Regions from separate parts of the Homo sapiens genome. Here region 2 is linked to region 1. Evidence: fine-mapped expression QTL. Tissue or cell type: whole blood. Region 1 holds a variant in brackets; the other region holds the start of a gene. All regions are shown on one strand. Distances are between the middles of the regions.

Region 1 (2,757 bases):
GCTCAGCCTTGACCTCAAGTGATCCCACCTCAGCCTCTTGAGTAGCTGGGACTACAGGTGTGTGCCATCATGCCCAGCTAATTAAAAAATTTTTTTTGTAGAGATGAAGTCACACTATGTTGCCCAAGCTGGTGACATGGGTAATTTATTAGAGTGTTGTAATGTGCTTCTCACAACCCTCATGCTCCAGGAGGCCAATTTAGAGCATACTTTTCCTTTTGATAGCTTAGCACCTTATCCACAGCACTGTAATTACATGCTACACACAACAGATTCATTTGCTACAATGTTCATTTTTAAAGAATTGTCAAATCTGCTGATCATTTGCCAACTCTTTTGTGCCAAAATGTTATTTATGAAGTTAATTTATAATAATTATTAATTATGAATACTTTATAGCATATCAATTATTCTAAACACTTTCCACTTTGCCTGCAGATAAATCAGTCTGCCTTGTGAAAGCAAACAAACAAAAAATCCTTGACAACCACTTCCTTGCCAAGATTGACCAAACACATACAGAATTTGCCTATGTCCACAAATACCTTAATCTTTATTTGCAATGGTTTTAGAAAAACATTAAGCATAAAACATTTGTATTATAAATTCTTTAGTTGACTCTTTTTTGTCCTATGTGTCAGTCCCTCTCTTTGTAAAACTAAGATTTATATATCTACCTTGCCAGGGTGGGAAAAGACTCAGTAAAGAAATGTGAAAGTGAATCAAAAGTTTGAAAAGGTATAATAATTCTGTCTTTCCTTTTTTAACAAATATCCACAGTATTTCAGAGATTCCTTAGTCATCTCAGGGAATAAATTGAGTACTTCAGGCTGCCTACATTGAAGAGAAGGTTCTCATATGAATGCCAGGTAGTTTGTGTCCCATTCATTCCTACCAAGGTTCTTGTTTAAGAATGGGTTGTTACTCAATTGTTGTAATGTAAATAGAAATTTTTCTGTCTTTAATCATTTCAGCTTAGTTAACCCACAGTTATTCTTTTAAAAACTAGGAAATACAAATGAGTAAAAGGTAAAAAAATTCACATAAGCTCAGAGATAACCAGGGTTTACATTTGGTATGTATCTTTTCAGACATTTTTCTACACACATACATATATTGTGAAGGGAACCAGAATATGCCACTTTGGCATGAGGATTATTTTGAGCTGAAGGCAATTAAGAAATAGCTTATGCAGAAAAAACTCTCTGCCCTCCTCCATCTGACTAAAAGCAGGACATAAATTTCTACTTGTAAAGGTGTTTACCTCTTTTGTACCAGAAAGAAGAGAACAACTCTTTTTTTTAAATTACACTTTAAGTTTTAGGGTACATGTGCAGAACGTGCAGGTTAGTTATATATGTATACATGTGTCATGTTGGTGTGCAGCACCCATCAGCTCGTAGGGATATGGATGAAGCTGGAAACCATCATTCTCAGCAAACTATCGCAAGGACAAAAAACCAAGCACCACATGTTCTCACTCATAGGTGGGAATTGAACAATGAGAACACGTGGACACAGGAAGGGGAACATCACTCTTTTTGTTTTTTAAGAGATGGGGTCTCGCTCTGTCTTCTGAGTAGCTGGGACTACAGGTGTGCACCACCACACCTGGCTAATTTATTTTTGTAGAGACAGGGTCTCGCTATGTTGCCCAGGCAGGTCTTGAACTTTTGGTCTCAAATGATCCTTCTGCCTTGGCCTCCCAAAGTGCTGAGATTACAGGTG[T/C]GTGAGCCACAGCTCCCAGGAGAACAACTCTTAATCACCAGGACTCTTAATTACTTGAGAGGACTCTAGAACTCTTATCAGCCCTGAGATGCACCAAGACAAATCTGCAGAACAAATCTTACTAAACAACCTTTATTTACCATTAATTTCCTCATATATTTACGCCTCACATTTACCACCCCTAGGACATTCCCTTGCCTCCGTTTCCTTTGACCTGTCATAGCTCCAGAATTTAGCATTCTTTGTTGAAATGGTATATAAGTGCTCAAGCCTATTTGCTTCTTTGAATCTTCATTTCTTTTTTACAAAGGCCTCCATGTACATGTAAACATATTAATATCAAATAACATTTGTATGCCTTTTCTCCTATTAATCTGTCTTTTATCAGTTTTATTGGCAGGGCCCCAGCTGCTGAACTTAGAAAGGTAGAGGGAAATTGTTTTTCCTCCTCTGCCATTTTATCAGTCGGTGTTCAGTCAGGGAAGCAAAGCCACCAAAAATGTCACAGAATAAGGAAGTGATTATATGAATTAGACCTTGCCCAATTGTGAGGGAAGCTGAGGAAGTGAAAGTCTGAAGGGAGGAGGATCAAGAAAGAGCTACTAACCAGTTCTCCCTAAGCTCTGGTGTGGGTGAAGAATTTGGAGCTCTCAGGGAAATATGAGCGAGAGCTTGTGGCGAGGTGTCTGGGTTGCTGGGTTTGGTGGTGTGAGCCTGTAGTCCCACCTACTCAGGAGCTGAGGTGGGAGGATAGCTTGATCCCAGGAGGTGGAGGCTGCAGTGAGCCAAGATTGTGCCACAGCGCTCCAGCCTGGCTGACCCTGTCTCAAAAAAAAAGTAATAAAATAAATAAAATGCCAACCAAGAATCAATCTAAAAAATTTTTTTAAAAGAGAAAGAGCTACACTGGCCAATACAAATGCTGAGGAGGAGATAGAGAATGTTGAGTAGGATTAGGATTAGGAATATTGAGGAGCCTGATGTTTAGGAAAAGAATGGAGATGAGTGTGGCAAAGCTAAGAGCTAGAG
Region 2 (2,757 bases), 88 kb before region 1:
GAGAGCAGTACACTCCTTTTATTTCTGAATACTCTGCATCAGAGCCCCTTGTCTGGCATGTAGAATATGTTCAATAAATGTTTATTGAATGCATAAATGTATGTTCTCATTCTCTTTACACATCTTGATAGCATGCTAATGTTCATTTTTTATCAGGTAAAGCAAGAAGGGGAGGAAGTTGAACCTTAAATTTGTTTAGTGACTTTATCATGGTCACAGAACCACTACTTTTTTGGTATAGGGAGCCAAGGATCCAAATGGAGACTGCTACTATTTTGCGCAGCATTTCCCCACCTTGTATCTCATGGCCAAACTTTTCAACGCCCCAGATGCAATTTCAGCAGTTAAACGCATGATTTTTCCCCATGAATGTGTGTTCGTGTGTGTGTGTATTTTTAAGTATCCCTTCCCTCACTTTTTGGCACTGGTGCTGCTTTCTGCCTCCAATCTCTCCTCTCTCTGTTTCAGCCTCCACACTACAGCCAGAATCTGCTCTCTAAAATGCAATTGTGATCATGTTACTTCCCTATTTAAAAACCCTTCAATGGTTCACTAATGTCTTGCAGATTAAATTCAAACTCCTTGGTGTGCTAAACAAAGCACTCAAATATCTGGCCCCTTCTACGCGCTTATCGCTCATCATACCCTCTCTTGCATTCACTTAGCTGGTGGTATCAAACTTCTCAACAGTTCCCTACACAAGAGCCTGTTTATTGATCCTTCAGCCTGGAATTACTTCCCTTACCCGACTCAAGACTCTAGCGCCACCTTTGCTATGAAGTCTCTCTTGACCATACTCACAGATAGAACTGATTGTTCCTTTGTGTGTATGCCCACACCCTTACAGGCCTGGATCTTAAGTCTGTTATCACTGCGTTGCGCTTATTTACAAGTATCCGCTGTCCCACCCACGCTCCACTTAGGCCTCTTTATACCCCTAGGTACTCACACAGAGCTTGGCACAAGTGATGCTTTATAAATGGTCAATGAATGAACGTAGTGGAAACACAGAAGAAGAGGGAGAAGAACTGGGGAAGAAAGAAGCTCTGTGGAGAGAATACTAATTGTTTTGCACATGAAAATAATGAGTTGTGAGGGAGGTCAAAAAGGTCAAAGGGAAGAGCCCTGCCTTACAGGAACTCACTGTCTGCTGGGAGGCAAGAGGTAAGGTCCGCATACCAAACACACGAAGCAATGAGCTTATCGGGGTGAAAATGGCTCGTGCACATTATAGTATCACAGAAACTTAGAGGCTGGGGGAGGATGGAGAGGAAACTGGCCTAGTCAAGTGTCTTCTAAGTGTTAGGCGGTTTTCGAGCGTTAAACAGTTTAATCTTTACAACCACCCCATGATGAGGATAGTAGCTCCATTTTAGGGACGAAGAAACATGCTCAGAGAATTTAGGTTGCCCAATGTCACAAACTACCATGTGGAAGGACCATAATTAGAATTTAGGTCAACTGCCTCCAGAGCCCTGAGGCTTTCGCTCCCCCTCTCTCGGCGGTCGAGACCCACAGGGCTCCCATTCACCTGCGCGTCGGCCTGCGCTAGCTATAGCCCTCAGGCGCGCCGCGTTCCGCGCACTCACACCACCCTCTGCGCGCCAGCCCTGCGTCCCTCCCACGCGAACTGCGCCGGCGCGTCCAGCCCTCCCGCCCGGGGGAGGGGCGGGGTTGCGTCGCTGCCGCTGACCCTTGAGCGCGCGGCGGCAGAGGCGGTGTCCAGGCTTCCGGGCGGGTAGTCCTTCGGCTCCGGAGCCGCGACTGCGCTCGCCTAGGTGGTGGGCGGGGAGGGAAGGAAGGGAGCGGGCGCAAGGCGGCGGCGGCGGCTGCGGGTGAGGAACTTGTTGCGCCCGCGGCTGCGCGGTGCCCCTCCCTCCGCTCCAGTTCGTCGGGGCGGGCGCGGCGGCGGCGGCGAAGGAGGAGCGCGGCCGGGGCGATGCGGCGCTACCTGCGCGTCGTGGTGCTGTGTGTGGCCTGCGGCTTCTGCTCGCTCCTTTACGCTTTCAGCCAGCTCGCCGTGTCCCTGGAAGAAGGAACGGGCGGCGGTGGCGGGAAGCCGCAGGCCGCGGTGGCTTCCTGGCTCGCGGGCGGCGGACGCGGCGCCGTGAGAGGCGCCGGCGTCGCGGGCCCCGCAGCGCATCCCGGCGTGTCGGACAGGTACGGGCAGTTCCCGGTGTGGGGGACGCGGCGGGCGCGGGGCGCTGGGCGCGGGCTCGGCCTAGCCCGGGCTGCTCGCCGGTGGGTGCCGCGTCTCCCGCGTCTTTCCTCCTGTCTCTGACCCCTCACTCATTTCCCTCCTTCCCCTCCGGCCGGGGCTAAACCTGCGCTGCTCCCGCCTGAGAGTGTCCTACACTTTCTGTGTTTATCTTTTGACCCAGTCATGCGCCCTTTAAAGCAGTTAGAAATTAATTTTCAACTTTTTAAAAAGAGGGTTCTTTGAAAATAAGAGGTGTCCACAAAAGCCTTACTGCTGCCTGGCTAGTGAGAATTTCCTCTTGTTTCAGTGGAGTTCAAGTTGAGATATTTAAACATGAGGCTGGCGCCCTAGTTCAGTGTTTAAGGATTGTGTGTGTGTGTGTGAGTGTATATGTGTGTGTATTTTGTCCCTCATGCTGATTTTCCTGTGTTAACGCTTACACTTCTAAGTATTAGCCATGGTTAGTTAAATTTGGAAATGGCATTTGTGCGGGTTGTGAAATTTTCTTTTGGAAACACTCAGTTTATTAAGAAACTTAGAGCAAATTAAGAAAAATG

What was found. PIP is the estimated chance that this variant, and not a neighbour inherited with it, causes the effect.
Region 2: it holds the start of GXYLT1, and the variant in region 1 is fine-mapped to the expression of GXYLT1 in whole blood (INTERVAL, PIP above 0.99). The same link has a PIP of 0.9 or more in lung.

Annotation. Positions count from the first base shown.
Region 1 is chr12:42,055,867-42,058,623 of GRCh38, reverse strand. No RefSeq gene overlaps it. Among named protein-coding and RNA genes, the nearest start is that of GXYLT1, 88 kb to the left of the region's middle. The variant T/C (reference allele first, on the strand shown) is at 1,729.
Region 2 is chr12:42,143,829-42,146,585 of GRCh38, reverse strand. It overlaps GXYLT1 (glucoside xylosyltransferase 1), which reads left to right and starts at 1,712. Exons shown (of 8, transcript NM_173601.2): 1 at 1,712-2,160. The coding sequence starts at 1,940. RefSeq lists an enhancer at 1,285-1,354 and silencers at 1,515-2,014, 2,095-2,324.